Linked DNA regions of Homo sapiens: region 1 is linked to region 2. The links come from fine-mapping of genetic effects on gene expression. A gene starts in region 2. The other region holds a variant in brackets. All regions are shown on one strand. Distances are between the middles of the regions.

Region 1 (9,844 bases), 28 kb before region 2:
CTGGTCTGACTTGAATTGTTAGAGAATAAAAATACACTCAGCACAAGTAAGAAACCCAGAAAGCCCAAACAGGGCCACTTTTGTTATAAATTTGTACAAGTAACTTTATTGCAGTCAGTATTTAGGAGTCAAATACTGCTTGAAATAGAGTAGGATGCTAGCTGTGTAATAGAAATGCATTATTATACAGAAGTTTTGTTGTAATGAAATTTAAATTCTACAGTAGATTTTTTTTTTTGTCTCCTGGTTGTCACTGCATTTGTGACATTCCAGTTTCTCCCTCAGCACCTCATATACCTCCTATGCTTTCACTCCAATCTGCGAATACAAATTTGGATACAGATATTTTCCATACAACTTCTAATGAGGAGATAGTGATTCTGTAACAGAATGAAGTGAAAATAGGGCTCCTATAACAGGAGGTTCTGCTCTGCGAGCCTGTTTTTCTCTAATTCATATACTTTTTTCTGTGACTCTTAGAAATGAGAAGCTTTCCATTCTAAAAATGCAACATGATAACCAAAAGGCATTTCTTATCCCTTCTATTATTTGCCTTTGCATCCTCTTGGCTCCCCATCACCATCACCATGAACAGTTTTTGAGAATTACACTTGACTGGATTTTTTTCCTGATACTTTGCCAGCTGTGGAGCTTTTCGAATATTCCAACCAATAAACGACCATTTTGTCAAAAAGCCAAGAAAGAACTTCCCTTCTGAACACACCAACCAAACCACACATAAAGGCCAAAATATACACAGCTGTACACTTAAGAACGTGAGACAATAAAAAGCAAAACCACTTAGGCAAAACAGTCACTGAAGGCTTTGAACCACAGATTCAATAAATTGCCTACTCTCATTTGCCACATGGACTATATACTCCTTGGCAATTATTTAATTATTCATTATTCTGATCCTTTAGGAGCAGAAAAATATAGTAAATGCACATAGAAAGTGCCTAAGTATGCTAAGCATAGGATTTCTTCTAAGCTCTGCTTTGCACACAAAATATTTTGATCACATTTGGGAAGACAACGGAAAAAAATTCACATCCTAGGGGATACTTTGCACACATAAAACCAGATATATTTATCACTTTTGAAAATAAAATCTGATATGGCACATATACACACATATTGTACATATACACAAATAACCCCAAGTTATAACTTTACAAATTTGTTTCAAGAAACACACACACACACACACAAATGTTCTAATGAAAATGTGTGTGAAAGACACACTGTAATTAAGGTCTTTCCCCCTTCCCTAGGGAAATGAATGTCTCCATTATAATATCCCAATATTAACTTATTGGCCTTGGACAAGTGCCACATCCCAGCCACTTGGTTTTGGTTCTGGGGGGGTGGGTGTGTAAAAAGCACGCAAACGGCTTTATGAGGGAGCCTCAAATCTCTCTGCTTCCTTCGATGTTGCCTGTGGCAGAAATTTACATTATCCCTTCAGCCCGCTTAAAAAATTCTGTACTTCCCAAGCGGCTAAATTTTTAAAGTCCCTCAACCACAAAAATCTACCAGTTCTTAAAATGTGATTTAAAAAAAAGAAAAAAAAACTATAAATTTGGCCGGAAACGGTTGTACACGGCCATCCTGCTTCTCAACTTCTTGGTATATTTAAAACCTTGACCAGGAAAAAGAAAGAGGAAGAGAGACAGAAAAAGAAATGGGGGAAAGAGCAAATTCCCCTTAGCAACAGTTTCCTCACCCCAACACTGCTACAGATCTCTATTTTTAAAAAATTTGAAAACACACACAAGATTAAGGAGGAAAAAAAATGGAAAAAGGATACCCGAAGGTCGTATGGCTCTTTGTATTCGTGTGTGTGCAAAAAGGAGGACTCGCGGAGCCCGAGCCGGCAAGCCCCGCCCCTCCCCGGACGCCCTCCCGGATTGGCCGTCCGCGGCCGCGGGGCGCCCCGCCCGCAAGCACACGCGCCGCGCCCGAGGCGCCAACCCCGGAGTTGGGGGCGGGGGGGGCCCTGAGGGCCGCCGGACCCCCGACCCCCAACCTCGCCTGGACCTTGGCAGACCCCTTTCCCACCTCTCTCCCTTTCACTTTCTCACCGTCCTGTCACCCTTTCCCATCTTTTTTTCTCAGTGAAACAAGGCCCAGTCACCAGCATAACAATCCAGTGAGCGACCTCCGGACACTTTGTTAAATTGAGTGAACTAGTCAGTAACATTCTAGACTGCAATTAAACATCAGGGACTTGGTGCGTGGGCCCTACTCCGGTTTCCAGGTGAAATGTCTCTGGGTCACGTGTGTTGCTTAACACCCCCACGTTTAAATGAACATTCACGTATGGAACATCTTTCTGAAGTCTTACACTTCAGCCCGAGCTCCCAGTTTATCTACCTGGCTCAGACCACATTCTCAAAACTAAAGTGGCTCCTCTTTATTTCCAGGAAGACAGCTGGTATACCTGGATTTTAAGCCACCCATAATCTGGTCCCACCCACCTATTTGTTATTTATTTATTTATTTAGACAGAGTCTCGCTCTGTCACCCAGGCTGGAGTGCAGTGGTATGATCTTCGCTCACTGTAAACTCCGCCCCTCCGCCCCCACCCCCACCCCCACCCCCACCCCGCCCAAGCGATTCTCCTGCCTCAGCCTCCCAAGAAGCTGGGACTACAGGCGTGCGCCACTGCACCCAGCTAATTTTTTTTGTTTTTGGTAGAGACAGGGTTTCGCCATGTTGGCCAGGCTGGTCCTGAACTCCTGACTTGAGGTGATGTGCCCACCCTGCCTTTTTTTTTTTTTTTTCAGTGATGTGATCTCGGCTCACTGCAACCCCCACCTCCGAGGCTCAAGCGATTCTCCTGCCTCAGCCTCCCGAGTAGCTGGGATTACGGATATATGCCACCACGCCCGGCTATTTTTTTTTTTTAAGTAGTGACGGGGTTTCACCATGTTGGCCAGGCTGGTTTTGAGCTCTTGACCTCAAGTTATCCTCCCGCCTTGGCCTCCCAAAGTGCTGGGATTACAGGCGTGAGCCACCGCGCCTGGGCACATATTTGTTCTTAGTTCCCTCTACGCTCGTCTTATCAATCTTGTATTATTCCTTTACTCAAGTGGCTTTTTTTTTTTTTTTTGGCCTGAATTATGCGTCTCCCCTTCCCTGACTGGTCAATTTTTATCCATTCTCTTTCAGCACAGACTGCTTACTTCCTTCTCTCCGCTCCCATCAACATGAATTTCATGTGTACTCCAGTTAGCGGCACGTAACTCTACCTTGATTCACATATTTTAGTAATTTCACTCCAGTAAACTGTTTGAGGTCAGTGATCATATCTTAAAATTGTTTTTCCATCCAGGAACTGTTTGATTCTTACTGCAGTAGCTGGCATAATTGTAGATATTTAGTAAACACTGACCAAAAAAATCATTTATTTATTTATATTTATTTTTGAGCTGGAGTCTCGCTCTGTCGCCCAGGCTGGAGTGCAGTGGCCCGATCTCGGCTCACTGCAAGCTCCACCTCCCAGGTTCACGCCATTCTCCTGCCCCAGCCTCCCGAGTAGCTGGGACTACAGGCGCCCGCCACCAAGTCTGGCTAATTTTTTGTATTTTTAGTAGAGACGGGGTTTCACCGTGTTAGTCAGGATGGTCTGGATCTCTTGACCTCGTGATCCACCAGCCTCAGCCTCCCAAAGTGCTGGGATTACAGGCGTGAGCCACCATGCCGGGCCAAAAATCATTTATGATCAAATAAGTGAATTTCTTTTCTAGCTAAAACACAGATTCTGAAACTCACATCTCACAAGAATTTCCCTTCTATAGTAAGTAGCAATTTGTGAACACTTATTGTGCAGGAAGTAACTGTTCTGAACACTTTATGTGCATCAATTTAGGTATTATTATTATTATTTTTTTTTTTTATTTTTTATTTTTCGAGACAGAGTCTTTCTCTGTCGTCCAGGCAGGCGGATCACGAGGTCAGGAGTTCGAGACCAGACTGACCAACATGGTGAAACCCCGTCTCTGCTAAAAATACAAAAAGTTAGCTGGGCATCGTAATGCGCACCTGTAGTCCCAGCTACTTGGGAGGCTGAGGTAGGAGAATTGCTTGAACCCAGGAGGCAGAGGTTGCAGTGAGCCAAGATTGCGCCACTGCACTCCAGGCTGGAGGACAGAGCGAGACTCCATCTCAAAAAATAATAATAATAAAATAATAAGGCCGGGTGTGGTGGCTCACGCCTGTAATCCCAGCACTTTGGGAGGATGAGGCAGGCAAATCACCTGAGGTCAGGAGTTCAAGACCAGCCTGGCCAACATGGTGAAACCCCGTCTCTACTAAAAATACAAAAATTGGCTGGGCTTGGTGGCGCACGCCTGTAATCCCAGCTACTTGGGACGTTGAGGCAGGAGAATCCCTTTAACCTGGGAGGCAGAAGTTGCAGTGAGCTGAGATCGTGCCACTTAAAAATAAATTTTTTTTGGCCGGGCGCAGTGGCTCATGTCTGTAATTCCAGTACTTTGGGAGACCGAAGCGGCACGGCAGATCCCTTGAGCTCAGGAGTTGGAAACCAGCCTGGGCAACATAGTGAAACCCCTGTCTCTCCTAAAAATACACAAATTAGCTGGGTGTAGTGGTGCATGCCTGTAGTCCCAGCTACTCCGGAGGCTGAGGCACATTAATCACTTGAACCCGGAAGGCGGAGATTGCAGTGAGCCGAGATGGTGCCACTGCACTCCAGCCTGGGTGACAGAGCAAGACTTCGTCTCAAAAATAATAATAATCTAGGGACATGACAACTACATGCAAAGTATGATCTGGGTCAGAAGAAAAAATGCTATCCTGGACACTAACAGGATACTTGGGAAAATTAAATATGGCCTGGATATTAGATAATTTGATTGTAGCCAAGTTAGATTAGTGGC[G/A]TCACCATTTTACAAGAAACAGGTTCAGAGAGTACTTACTACAAATTTACATAGCTAATAGGCGACAGACCTGAACCCCCAAGCCAGCTGTCTTATCAAGCTGTTCAACATACACACACACACTCACACACACATTTTGACACTGGCCATCAGTCAGGCCTCGTCCATAAAATTGTTGGTTCTCAACGTCCAGGGCATTGTTGGTAGGATCTAGTTCTCAGCAGAAAGGCCTAATGCCTTCAGTGTTGTTTTCACCCTAGCAGCACCCTAGCTTAGGCAATAGATTTGCCTTTTACCTGAAAATGAGGTGCTAGTGTTTACTTTCTCAAGGGTTATAGACTTTCTGTGTTTCTTTTTTCTCTTTTTAGAGACAGGACCTCACTATGTTGCCTCGGCTGGTCTCAAACTCTTGGACTCAAGGGATCCTCTTGCCTCAGCCTCCCCAATAGCTGGTGCATGCTACTGTGCCCAACATGTGTTTCTTTTTATATGCTTTTCATTTAAACTTCTAAAAAATAACACAAGCCTAACTGGGCGTGGTGGCTCATGCCTGTAATCTGAGCACTTTGGAAGGCCAAGGCAGGTGGATCATTTGAGGTCAGGAGTTCGAGACCAGCTTGATCAACATGGTGAAACCCGTCTCTACTAAAATACAAAATTTAGCCGGGTGTAGTGGGGTGCACCTGTAATCCCAGCTACTTAGCCAGGTGTGGTGGTGTGCACCTGTAATCCCAGCTACTCTGTAGGGTGAGGCAGGAGAATCGCTTGAACCTGGGAGGCAGAGGTTGCAGTGAGCCGAGATTCCACCACTGCCCTCCAGCCTGGGTGACAAAGTGGGATTCTGTCTCAAAAAATAAATAAATAAATAAATAAAGCCATGAGATCACTAGGAAAATATTAAATATTAACTCTTGATGAGAATGTACTAGGACGTCTCATATTCTCAAATGCACAGGTGATATATTTTCTTTTTTTTTTTTTTTTGAGATGGAGTTTTGCTCTTGTTGCCCAGGCTGGAGTGCAGTGGCACAATCTCGGCTCACTGAAACCCCCGCCTCCTGGGTTCAAGCAATTCTCCTGCCTCAGCCTCCAGAGTAGCTGGGACTACAGGAGGCTGCCACCACACCCGGTTAACTTTTTGTATTTTTAGTAGAAACAGGTTTCACCATGTTGGCCAGGCTGGTCTTGAACTCCTGACCTCAGATCATCTACCTGCCTCGGCCTCCCAAAGTGCTGGGATTACAGGCATGAGCCACTGTGCCCAGCCACAGGTGATATATTTTCAAAAATGTTAGGATAAAGGGAAAACAGAAATGTTAATAATTATTAAAATCAACAGTTATTGAGAGTTTACTTGGTGCCAGGCACTCTGTATCTCATTTAATCAATTCTGTGAGATAAGTACTATTATACTCCCTCTTTTACTGAGGAGAAAACTGAGACTTAGAGGGGGATTGGTAAGTTACCTAGAGGTTGTTGAGCTAATTAACTCAATGGTGGTCACTAGTGGAATCATAGCTTGAACCCAGGTGTGCTCACTACAGAACCTGTGCTCTTGACTATTCATTAGTCTCTGTCTAAATTGAAACCCACTCTGCCTTGCTGTTACCCTCTTTTGCTCTCGTTCTGTCCATGAAAGACAAGCTGTCTTCACTTTGATGATCAATGGAATGTTCATAACTGCCATACAGTCTCCTGGGATATATTTTTAATTATGAGTCCATTACTACAAAGGTCAAAGTTAAGTTGGAAAAGCCATGTCTTTTTTTTTTTTTTGAGACAGAGTTTCACTCTTGTTGCCCAAGCTGGAGTACAATAGCACGATCTCGACTCACCGCAACCTCTGCCTCCCGGGTTCAAGCAATTCTCCTGCCTCAGCCTCCCAAGTAGCTGGGATTACAGGCATGCACCACCACACCCAGCTAATTTTGTATTTTTAGTAGAGACAGGGTTTCTCCATATTGGTCAGGCTGGTCTCGACCTCGACCAACCTCAGGTGATCCGCCCGCCTCGGCTTCCCAAAGTCCTGGGATTACAGGCCTGAGCCACCGCGCCTGGACTTTTTTTTTTTCTTTTTCTTTTTGAGACAGGATCACTTGCTTTGTCACCCAGGCTGGAGTGCAGTGGTGCAATCATGGCTCACTGCAGCCTCTACCTCCCGAGTAGCTCAGACTACAAGTGTGTGCCAATATGCCCAGCTAATTTTTAAAATATTTTGTAGAGATGGAGTCTAACTACGTTGCCCAGGCTGTTCTCGAACTCCTGGGCTCAAGTGATCCTCCCACCTTGGCCTCCCAAACAATTACAAGCATGAGCCACAGTGCCCGGCCTAAATTTCTATTTTCCCCATGGTCATAGGAGAATCTTTGAGTAGAAGGTTTGAGTAATGAACTTGTGTGCTGTTAGGTAATGAGAATAGGGAGAATATACCATTTTCACCTAAAAATTACAATTTTCACTCTAAAACATCTGAAATTTCAAATGTTAGACTTTACAGATGACTTGTCGATTGAGGAAAATCACTAATTTGGCTTTGAATCAAGCAGATCTTTTATTTTAGGCTGTTTCTGTTCAATGAGATCTGAAAGAGGCCTCCCCTACAGTGAAATGTAACTTCCCCTAGAGTGAGGCCGGGAAGCTGTTTCCGACAGTCATTCGTTAACACATGGGAGAGCATCTTAGAATAGGAGTGGAAGGAAATCCTACAGCTAGCTGAGAATATGTCCTAAGAGACACTGGAGAGGAAAGTATGAGAGAGCTGAGATTCAGAGTTGAGAAAGGGTACAGAAAGGTGGAAGGTAATGCAAAGGAAACAACAGAAAAGGAAGACGGCAGGCAGCAGAGAACAGCCCTCAAGGAAGAGAGAAGGGGTTTGTATTGTAGCAGGAGTGAAAGTAGATTCGATTTTAAAGAAAAAAGATCTGAATTTGATTGTTAGATGCAAAAATTTGATAAAAATTGTAGAAGCAACTGGAACATCTTAAGATCAGTTAAAAAAAAAGTGTCAAAAACCAAAACAAAACAAATTAAAATGCTATAACAGGCCAGGCACGGTGGCTTACTCACGTCTGTAATCCCAGCAGTTTGGGAGGCTGAAGTGGGCGAATCACCTGAGGTCAGGAGTTGGAGGCCAGCCTGGCCAATATGGTGAAACCCCGTCTCTACTAAAAATACAAAAATTAGCCGGGCTTCGTGGTGTGTGCCTGTAATCCCAGCTACTTGGGAGGCTGAGGCAAGAGAATCACTTGAACCTGGGAGGCAGAGGTTGCAGCAAGCCAAGATCGTGCCATTGCACTCCAGCCTGGGCGACAAGAGCCAAACTCTGTCTAAACAAACAAACAAACATGAAACTGTGAATGATATTTTATTTAGTCATTTTTGTTTACAATTGAAACTTTGGGAATTCAAAAGTAACATTCTTGCCTTTGAGCTTCTTTCAACCTACAAGAAAAGAAACAATCATCACAAAACTTTCAAATACACACACTCATCTTAAAACCTAATGATTTTGTGAAATTGTACCCCTTATGTTTTCTATTTGTTTGTTTGTTGTGAGATAGAGTCTCTTGCCCACCCTGGAGTGCAGTGGCATGGTCTTGGCTCTGCAACCTCTCCCTCCCAGGTTCAAGCAATTCTCCTGCCTCAGCCTCCTGAGTAGCTGGGATTACAGGCACCCGTCACCACGCCCAACTAATTTTTTTTTTTTTTTAGACTGAATCTTGCTCTGTCACCCAGGCTGGAGTGCAGTGGCACTATCTCGGCTTACTGCAACCTCTGTCTCCTGGGTTCAAGCGATTCTCCTGCCTCAGCCTCCTGAGTAGCTGGGATTACAGGCATGCACCACCAGTCCCGGCTAATTTTTGCATTTTTAGTAGAGACGGGGTCTCACCATGTTGGCCAGGCTGGTCTCGAACTCCTGGCCTCAGATGATCCACCCACCTCGGCCTCCCAAAGTGCTGGGATTATAGGTGCCTTTATGGTTTTTCTCCTTGGCAACCAGTTACTGTGAAAATCAAGTACTGTGAAGATACAGGGTACATCCACAAGTGTCCCAAGACCGAGAACAAGCTCATTTGCAATGCGTGGGACAGGATTCTGCAGCACTGCACCTAAGTGCTGTGCTCCTTTGCCATGTGGGTGTGTGTGAATTTTTCGTGGTGTTTCTACTGGAAGAGTCAGGACATTATTTGCAATCTGATTTATCTGTTTTCTTGTGATTAGGTTCAGGTTAAGCTTTTTTTTTTTTTTCTTTTTTGATACAGGGTCTTGCTCTGTCACCCAGGCTGGAGTGCAGTGATGTAATCACAGTTCACTGCAGCCTTGACATCCAAAGCTCATGCCATCCTCCTGCCTCAGCCTCCTGAGTAGCTTGGGACTACAAGTGCATGCCACCATGCCCTGCTAATTTTAAAAAGTTATTACTTGGTAGAGACAAGATCCCCCTATGTTGCCCCGGCTGGTCTCAAACTCCTGGGCTCAAGGGATCCTCCTGCCTTGGCCTCCCCAAATGCTGGAATTATAGGCATGAGCCACCACATCAGGGCCAAGGTTAAACATTTTTAGCGAGAATATTACTTAGGTAATTTTATATACTTCTTATTGTATCACATCAAGAGGCATATAATGTCAGTTTGTTCTATTATTGGTGACTGCAAGTTTATTCATGTCTGCTAGACGTCTCTGTTGTAGAAGTATATTTGCCATTTGTAATTAATTAGTAAACTAATAATAAATAGAGTGATTGTTATGGGCTGAAATGTGTTCCCCTAAAACTTATATACTGAAGCCCTAACCTCCAGTACCTCAGGATTCGACTGTATTTGGAGACTGAGTCTTTAAAGAAGTGATTAAGTTAAATGAGGCACTTAGGGTAGAGCCAGTCTGACTGGTGTCCTTATAAGAAGAGGGAATTTGGACACAAAGAGATACCTGTGGTGCAC
Region 2 (9,844 bases):
TTTAATGCTGAAATTGGCAACCCTTTCCAAGCCCAATCATCAGAATAGAATTAAACAGGAGATCTTTGTGTTTCACACTTGGATGATGTGGAAAATGCGGAGTGCGTCTGTTTACTGAGCATATATTATTTTGCAGTCACCCCTGCAGTGCAACTAGTCTTTCTGCCTCCTTCCAGTGGTTTTTCACTCTGCCACTGATAGCATGTGTACCTCTCTTAAGGCCCTTTTACATTTTACCTGGTTAGAAATTACATTTATCTCCTACCGGATTGTGAGCTTTTAAATACAAGTACTTACTATTCATTTCTGTACCCACTGTATGCTTAATACATATTTGCCAAATGAACACCTGAAAGAATGACAGCAGTGGTCTTCTAGTCAAAAAGGCTTGAAGTCCTTGCTTATCTTTTACAGCTTTTTTCTTTCCTTCATATCCAGTTAGTTGCATGGTCCTGTTGATTATTTCCACTTCAGTGTTTCTCACATTCTTTTTCATTACAACTGATACCACCTTTGGCTTCTTATGTCCTCATTCTGGAATTGCTGAAATATTCTCCTTATTTTATTTTATTTTTTTGAGATGGAGTCTCGCTCTGTCGCCCAGGCTGGAGTGCAGTGGCGCAATATTGGCTCACTGCAACCTCTACCTCCTGGATTCAAGTGATTCTCCTGCCGTAGCCTCCCAAGTAGCTGGAACTACAGGTGTGTGCCACCATACCTGGATAATTTTTTTTTTTTTTGAGACGGAGTCTCGCTCTGTCACCCAGGCTGGAGTGCAGTGGCACAATCTTGGCTCACTGCAAGCTCCGCCTCCCGGGTTCACGCCATTCTCCTGCCTCAGCCTCCCGAGTAACTAGGACTACAGGCGCCCGCCACCATGCCCGCTAATTTTTGTTTTTTTTTGTATTTTTTAGTAGAGATGGGGTTTCACCATGTTAGCCAGGATGAATTGCCTGGATAATTTTTTTTTTTTTTGTATTTTAAGTAGAGATGGGATTTTGCCATATTGGCCAGGCTGGTCTTGAACTCCCAACCTCAGACGATCTGTCTGCCTCAGTCTTCCAAAGTGCTGGGATTACAGGTGTGAACCACCATGCCTGGCCTTCTCCTAACTGATTTATGGGTCTAAATTGTCACTCTCTAATTCATTCTGCACAGCATCAGATTCGTTTTCCTAAAACACCATTTTTTTTTTTAATTGAGTTTTGCTATTGTCGCCCAGGCTGGAGTGCAGTGGCACGATCTCTGCTCACTGCAACCTCTGCCTCCCAGGTTCAAGCAATTCTCCTGCGTCAGCCTCCCGAGTAGCTGGGATTACAGGCGTGCGCCACCAGGCCCAGTTAATTTTTTTTCTTCTATTTTTAGTAGAGACAAGATTTTGCCATGTTGGGCGGGCTGGTCTTGAACTCCTGACCTCAGGTGATCTGCCCGCCACAGCCTCCCAAAGTGCTGGGATTACAGGCGTGAGCCGCTGCGCCCAGCCTAAAACATCATCTCGATCTTAACACTCACCTGCTTAAAAATGTTCTGTGGGCCAGGCGCGGTGGCTCACGCCTGTAATCCCAGCACTTTGGGAGGCCGAGGTGGGCGGATCACGAGGTCAGGAAATCAAGATCATCCTGACTAACACGGTGAAACCCTGTCACTACTAAAAATACAGAAAATTAGCCAGGCGTAGTGGCACCGCCTGTAGTCCTAGCTACTCTAGAGGCTGAGGCAGGAGAATTGCTTGAACCCGGGAGGCAGAGGTTACAGTGAGCAGAGATTGTGCCACTGCACTCCAGTCTGGGCGACAGAGTGAGACTCCGTCTCAAAAAAAAAAAAAAAAAAAAAAAAGTTTTGTGAATTCAAGCTCCTCAGCATAGCATTCAAGGCCTTCCATAATCCATTCCCAACTTACCTCACATGCGTTCTCTGCTCCAGGGTCCCTATTCCTGGGGACCTCATTAAGGAGAAGTACAAATGATAAATGCTGTGGTTCAGAGGTGGGCGAGGGAGTCAATATAGATTGGAAAGAGGCTGTAGGTCCAGGATGGCTTTGTCAAGGTCTGGATTCATTTTTCTAAATCTGACTTGGTGCACTCACAGCCTCTCCTTTCTCAGCCCATACCTGGGAAGGAATTTCACAATAGGTGGTACTTAAGCCAGACTGTGGAATAGGATTCAAACAGGTGAAAGGGAGGTGGGAGGTGTGTTAGGAATAGAGAGAAAAGAGCCTGTGATAGATAGATTTAGGTTGGACCATAGTGGGTCTTACGTGCCAGCTTGGGATAGAAGAGGTAGTTTTGATTTTATCTTATAACCCTCCAAGTTTTTCTAGCAGAGAAAACACAGGATTTGAGTGATACTTTAGGAAAACATGTCCATGTAGAGGGTAAGATTACAATGGGAGACTGGTGAGTGCTTAATTAGGAGGTCATTCAACTGTCCAGACCTGACTTGATAATGGCTTGATCTAGGGAGGTGGCAATCCATCTATAAAGAGTCTGAGACTTAGCCTTTAGAAAGAAGATATACTCTAGGCTAGGCGCAGTGGCTCACGCCTGTAATCCTAATACTTTGGGAGGCCCAGGTGGGCGGATCACCTCAGGTCAGGAGTTCGAGACCAGCCTGGCCAGCATGGCAAAACCCTGTCTCTACTAAAAGTACAAAAATTACCTGGGTGTGTTGGGGGTGCCTGTAATCCCAGCTACTTGGGAGGCTGGGCAGGAGGATCGCTTGAGCCTGGGAGGCAGAGGTTACAGTGAGCCAAGATCACGCCATTGCACTCCAGTTTGGATGACAAGAGCGAAACTCCGTCTCAAAAAGAAAGAAAGAAAGAAGATATATCCTTACCTTTCAGCAAGATTTCCTGGTGGTCCTACACCAAGGAGAAGAGAAGGACTGGTTGGACCTTAGCATGCTCTTTGAGTTTCTCCAACTTTCCCATGACCAGGTTTACACTTTTCCTTAGTAGTGAGACCCCAGAAAGCTATGATGCCACAGCCCCACCATCATGATGTCTGGAGGGTCCAGACTCTTTCCTTTGTGTGTGGGTCTGTTTCTTCAAATAAATCCATTTCCACAGCACCACCTTGAGCTGCAATGTTTAGTATAATATATGTACGGCATATGTTGCTGGAGTAGTTGCAGCTTGTCACTCTGCCCCAATTAACTGGCTATTTTTTTTTTTTTTTCTGAGACAGGGTCTTACTTTGTTGCCCAGGCTAGAGTGCATGGAGTGCAGTGGCACAATCTTACTCACTGCAGCCTCATTCAGTGAGTGCTCAAGTGATCCTCCCACCTCAGCCTTCCAAGTAGCTGGGACTACAGGTCCACACCACCACACCCGGCTAATTTTTTGTATTTTTTGTAGAGGTGAGGTTTCGCCATGTTGCCCAGGCTGATCTCGAATTCCTGGGCTCAAGTGATTCACCTGCCTTGGCCTCCCAACGTGCTGAGATTACAGGCGTGAGCCAACACACTTGGCCTTGACTTCGACTTTCTGAAGGGTCAGCTATCAGGGTCCACCAACCCCACCACTCTAACACCCCTGGTTGGTCTAAGACTTATAGACTCAACATTATGGAGTTAAGATCAGTTGTTTCTCCTGCCCTGGAATTACAAGCCACTCTGTTGCCATTGTGAACTATTAGGCAGAAGGGGGAGCAGGAGCTAGAAGGCCACTAGATCCTTTGGACTTCAACACAAGTCAAAGGCATACTGCCAGAGAACTGTCAGGAATGCCTTCTCTGTATACAGATAGAAGGACATATTTATCTCTAAAGCAAGGGAGAAAGAGACCTTCAGGTTCTAGTTTCCTTCATTCCTCAGCAATCTGCCTTTGTGGAAGATATTTCAGCCTCTTTCTCCTCTCCGCTGTTACAAAGTTCTCTTGCTCTTTTTTCTCGTCTTTGCTTTAGTCCACTTTTAATTAATTAATTAATTAATTAATTTTTGAGATGGAGTTTCGCTCTTGTTGCCCAGGCTGGAGTGCAATGGCAGCTCACTGCGACCTCCACCTCCCGGGTTCAAGCGATTCTCGTGCCTCAGCCTCCCAAGCAGCTAGGATTGCAGACATCCACCACCACACCCGGCTGATTTTTTTTGTATTTTCAGTAGAGACGGGGGTTTCACCATGGTGGCCAGGCTGGTCTCAAACTCCTGACCTCAGGTGATCCGCCCGCCTCTGTCTCCCAAAGTGCTGGGATTACAGGCATGAGCCACCATGTGCGGCCTTTTTTATTTTTATTTTTTTAAATTTTCCTTTATTTTTTATTGAGACAGGGTGTCACTGTGTCGCCCAGGCAGGAGTGCAGTGGCACAATCACGGCTCACTGAAGCCTTGACCTCTTGGACTCAGGTGATCCTTTCACCTCAGTTTCCTGAGTAGCTGGGACTACAGGCATGTGCCACCATGCTTGGCTAATTTTTTTTTTTTTTGAGATGGAGTCTCGCTCTGTCACCCAGGCTGGAGTGCAGTGGCACGATCTCAGCTCACTGCAACCTCCGCCTTCTGGTTCAAGCAATTCTCCTGCCTCAGCCTCCTGAGCAGCTGGGACTACAAGTGTGCGTCACCACACCCAGCTAATTTTTTAGTAGAGATGGGGATTCACCATATTGGCCAGGCTGGTCTCGAACTCCTGACCTCGTGATTCACCTGCCTCGGCCTCCCAAAGTGCTGGGAGGCATGAGCCTCCGAGCCTGTCCCAGGCTAATTGTTACATATTTTGTAGAGATGGGGGTCTTGATATGTAGCCCAGGGTGGTCTCGAACTCTTGGGCTCAAGCCATCCCCCTGCCTTGGTCTCTCAAAGTGCTAAGATTACTGGTGTGATCCACTGTGCCCAGCCTCAGTCCATTTTTCTTTCCCCATCTTTCCCTTGAGTTTGAAGTATGAGCTGAGTTCCTTGCTCCCATATCTCTGAAGGGAGTCCCCAGCACCAAGGTCTCCTGCCTCAGTGGGGTTACAGCGCTGTATTCTGACCACATCAGTCCACTGAATTGTCTACCTCGTCCTAGGCTGGGAGCCCTCTCAGGCCAGGGACAGGGCCTTATTTGTCTCTACGTGCCCAGTGCCCCGCATGGGAGAAACAAGGAGCCCAGCCCTGCTCCATCCATTTGTGCTCATGTTTCTTTGCATTACCCCAGCCCCCCCCGCCCAACTCCAGATAGTTGGAGGATGACAGACAGGAGACTCTTTGGGTGACTCTCAGATGCGTCATGGGCAGCAGAAGGTGAAGGTCTGACCGTGAAGGCAGCGTCTTCCTAGTGCTGGAGACTCTACAGCCCTCATCCTGTCTCCTTTCAGCTGTCCTCTGAGATGAAGGGGGCTGCTCCATCAGCCAATCCCAAAGCCTGAATTGGGGGTTGAGGAGAAATGAAGCGTCAGCTCACACACCTTCCTGGCCGGTTCTGGCTGTGGCCCAGCTTCTCTGTAGCGTCCCTCCTATCCCACCAGACCCCAGCCACAAATTCCTGGCTTGCTTCTTCCAAACTTCATTCAGCCCCAGGGATGGCTCTGCAGGATGTGTGCAAGTGGCAGTCCCCTGACACCCAGGGACCATCACCTCACCTGCCTCGGGCTGGCGGCTGGGCTGTGCCCCGGGGTTGTGACCCTCAAACCTTCCTGCAGATCCATGGCCCCAGACTGGCCCACGGCACCACCACTCTGGCCTTCCGCTTCCGTCATGGAGTCATTGCTGCAGCTGACACGCGTTCCTCCTGTGGCAGCTATGTGGCGTGTCCAGCCTCATGCAAGGTCATCCCTGTGCACCAGCACCTCCTGGGTACCACCTCTGGCACCTCTGCCGACTGTGCTACCTGGTATCGGGTATTACAGCGGGAGCTGCGGCTTCGGGAACTGAGGGAGGGTCAGCTGCCCAGTGTGGCCAGTGCTGCCAAGCTCTTGTCAGCCATGATGTCTCAATACCGGGGACTGGATCTCTGTGTGGCCACTGCCCTCTGCGGCTGGGACCGCTCTGGCCCTGAGCTCTTCTACGTCTATAGCGACGGCACCCGCCTGCAGGGGGACATCTTCTCTGTGGGCTCTGGATCTCCCTATGCCTACGGCGTGCTAGACCGTGGCTATCGCTACGACATGAGCACCCAGGAAGCCTACGCCCTGGCTCGCTGCGCCGTGGCCCACGCCACCCACCGTGATGCCTATTCAGGGGGCTCTGTAGACCTTTTCCACGTGCGGGAGAGTGGATGGGAGCATGTGTCACGCAGTGATGCCTGTGTGCTGTACGTGGAGTTACAGAAGCTCCTGGAGCCGGAGCCAGAGGAGGATGCCAGCCATGCCCATCCTGAGCCTGCCACTGCCCACAGAGCTGCAGAAGATAGAGAGCTCTCTGTGGGGCCAGGGGAGGTGACACCAGGAGACTCCAGGATGCCAGCAGGGACTGAGACGGTGTGAGAAGCAGGACTTGGTTGGGGATGGTGTAGGCCTGGGGAGTGGGTGGGAGGATGGGCAGCAGGGGGAGGGTCCCGCTGGCAGCAGCCTCACAGCGTCTGGCTCTAGCCTGTATGGGTTGCTGGCTTCATTTATTGCAAGTCTCCATCCTTTCATGACTCCCAGAGCTATTATGGCTCTGCCCAACAAGTTCCTATTGACTCCCAGTGGATTGGTCCAGCCTCCTTCTTGGCACCAAGTCCGTCTTTCATTCAACACTTGCAGTGTGCCTACTGCATGCCAGACGCATGCTAGGTGCTAGACCCTCTTTTCTTGCCATCTTCTCTGCTTTTTTCCATCATCTCATCCCCAGTTTCTCTTAGTTTCGGTCCTTTATGTGTCTCAGCTTCAGCGTCTTTGTCTTTTTCTCCTGATCACTTTGTCAGCATGGTAAGATGGGGCACCCGGGAAGGGAGCAGCCCCTCTCAGAACGAGGCGTAGTGATAGACACCCTTTGGATGGTGATGGGCTTGTCTTATCTGCTCTCCTTCTCTGACTTGACCATCATGACTAGAATGATTATCCCTTTACTGAATGCAGTTCTCATCGCAACCCTTTGAGGTAAAAATGAGTCTCTCTTTACAGAAGAGGAATCAGGTTCAAAGGGTTATGTGGCTTGCCAGGGTCACACAGTAAGTGGCAGGGATGACACTTAGATCCAGGCCTTCTCCTCCAGGGTCCATGCTCTTTCAGCACAGCTCCCCCTCCCAGGCCCTCTGCCCTGCCTTTCCTCTCTTCCCTGCAGGCTTCCGGAGAGGGATGTGGAGGGAGAAAGTAGCTAGGCCAGTCCCCTGCCTGGTGGCTCATGTGGCTTTATCTTCCAGGCCTGGAGCCATCCCCCACAGCCCACCCTTGCTCTCCAGCTTTCTGGGCCTGGCGGTGCCGCTGCCAGACTTCCCCTCCTCCTTTCTTCCCTTTGCCTTCTTTCCAGCCCCTCCTTCCTGATGCTCCCTCTGGAGAATGAAGACAAGAGAGAGGTGGCTGTGCCAGTGGGAACTGTCTGGCTAGCACATCCTCTCCTGCCCCTCCTGTCCCTGCTCCCACTCCCCTAGAAGCCCAGACTTGAAGATCCAGACTAACACCTCCAGGAGGGCCACTGCCCTGCTGTCCCCTGGCCAAATGAGAGAGAAAGCACTGTTAACCTACGAGATAGGGCCTGAAGGAAGGGTGCTGAAGTTGCTTTCCTCACATCCAATCCTAAAGCTTCCAGTCCCAAGAATAACAGCCGCCTGCCTTCCCTCTTGGACACCCCTCATCCCTGGCTCCAGCCTAGGCCCGAGCCTTAATCTTGCACCCCAGATTAAGCATTCCTCCAGGCAGGAGCTGGGCAGACAGACCTCCAGACTCTGGTGCAGAGCGGGTGACTGGGGTGGGGGAGGAAAGGTCAGGGGGCTCCAGAAGGGAAAACCCCAGAAAGGACACAGTGGGGAGGAATTGTGGTGGACACCACAGAAAGGTGTCCAGTTTGGGGGGACTGGCCTTCAAGCCAGGCTCAAGGAATCTGGCCAGTGGCCTCTGCGGCCACCCTTCTTTACCCCTTGCTCACTCCCCAGCCTCAGGGGAGGAGATGTGGGACTCTGGGACTGCTAACTGGGAGGCAGGGCTCCCAGTGGCCTAGTCCTGGAGGAAGCATGTGAGGAGGGGCAGCTTTTGCATGGCGTTCAGGTGTTTGACTCGGCATAAGAGGGTGCATATTCATGTCCACAGGTGTATGTAGTTCTGTGCCCAGGTGTAGGTGAGTGATACAGGATGGGATTCACACGAGTGTGGCAGGCGATGCGTGTGCAGTTCCTGTGTGCAGAGACAAGAAACAGACTGAAAGAGAAAGAGCGACACCTGAATAAGGAGATCAGCCTCTCAGCGGGAAGACTGCCAGGCCTTATCACTTCTTTTGGGGAGTGCTCCAGAGTAAAGAGGAGGTGGGGGACAGGCTCATGCCAGCAGTTCTCTACTTCCTCATCCTCCCAGCCCTATCCTGAGCCTCTCAGGAAGTGAGAAAAGACAGGCAGGGAGGGGTGGCCTGGGACCTGGGATTGCCACCTGAGCGCAGTCAAAGGTGGGCTGTGAACTGCGTGCAGCTGTCTCCCCCTGAGATGCTTGGCGCCTCACCCCCATTCCCAGACTCAAGCAGGAGAATTGAACTCAGACCAAGAGGGCAGAACCAGACCAGGAGGGCAGAACTCAGGGTGGGGGGACCCTCCTCTCTTTTCCTTCCATAGTCCCACCCATCTTCACTCCCTTTGACAGGTCCTGTCCTTCCAGAGGTTGAGGTAGTTGAGGCCAGAGATGAGCCCATGGGTCTGGCTGACAAGCCTGGTTCCCTCTGCCCTATTATTTTCCGCTATGTTTTTAATGAGTTTGGGGGAGGACCTTAGGAGAGTCTTAGGGAGGGCTGGGTAGACAAAGGCCAACATCCCATTCCAATGCACCCCTCACTGTCTAAGAGTAGCCCATGAGTCATTTCCCCCATTTCTCTACTAATTCCTGAAGGCTTGATACAGATATCACGGTGAGACCAAAGGGGCGGAGATCTTCCCCTTCCTGCCCCGAACCAGAAGACCTTGTCCTTCTGATGCCCTGCTTGGGGTGGTGCCTACCTCCTCACAGTCTCTGGAGAGTTCGGGGGGATAGCCCGCTCTTGCACAAGCCCTTGGACTGTCAGAGGTCCAGGCTTCCAGCCTTCAGCAGAGTAAATGACCTGAATTCCAGCACTAGAGGGAGGGGCCTTGTTCTCCTACCTCCTGCTTGTCCTTATCAAGCAGGTGGGGAAGGTATGAGGGAAGGTATGTTCACATTGAAGCAGCTTTCCCCAGCTGCCAGTACCCCATACGAAGGGGGAGTCACAAGGACCTATCCTACCTCGCCTACCTGTGTGTGCCTCTGGAGCCCTGGAGTTGAGAGGCCTGAGCTCTCATGCTGGTTCCTGGGTGGACCCCTTCTCTGGACTTTGGGAGATAATTGCAGTTCTGGCTCAGCTCCCACCTAGTTGACTGCTTCTGTCCGTCAACAGCCTGCCTCCCTGGTCCTCTCCCTCCTCCTTTGTGTTCTGCAAAGACTAAGACCATGGCCTAGGGGAGAGTTAAAGGTGGGAGCAGCGGGCCCAGATTCAATGTGACTGTCTCACTCTGGTCCGCCCTTTCCCCACTTGGCACTACGAGCCCCAGGAAAGGCTGGTTTGTCCCCGCTGCTGCCTGCCACCCCCATTATTTTCCTAGTCCAGAATCCCCCTTCCTCTCTTAGTCTTTTATCCCTCCGGCCCTCTTCTCAGCAGCTCTCACACTTCACCCTCTACTTCTCCTGCCCATCTTGCCCTCTGACCAATCCCTATATCTTTTTTTTTTTTTTTTTTGAGACAGAGTCTCGCTCTGTCACCCAGGCTGGAGCGCAGTGGCGCGATCTTGGCTCACTGCAA

Which allele goes with the higher level. Alleles are on the strand shown, and positions count from the first base shown. SD is a standard deviation of normalised expression in the study named.
For the expression in testis of the gene that starts at base 5,480 in region 2, allele A in region 1 goes with a higher level than allele G (moderate effect, 0.41 SD a copy in GTEx).

The links.
Region 1: its variant is fine-mapped to the expression of PSMB11 in testis (GTEx, PIP above 0.99).

The regions. Positions count from the first base shown.
Region 1 is chr14:23,008,291-23,018,134 of GRCh38, forward strand. C14orf93 (chromosome 14 open reading frame 93) reads right to left here and starts at 1,853. Exons shown (of 7, transcript NM_021944.4): 1 at 1,811-1,853. It overlaps LOC124903286 (a long non-coding RNA gene), which reads left to right. Exons shown (of 2, transcript XR_007064075.1): 2 at 1-694. RefSeq lists an enhancer at 1-214 and a silencer at 1,842-2,191. The variant G/A (reference allele first, on the strand shown) is at 4,905.
Region 2 is chr14:23,036,733-23,046,576 of GRCh38, forward strand. PSMB11 (proteasome subunit beta 11) reads left to right here and starts at 5,480. Exons shown (of 1, transcript NM_001099780.2): 1 at 5,480-7,328. The coding sequence starts at 5,494. The coding sequence ends at 6,396.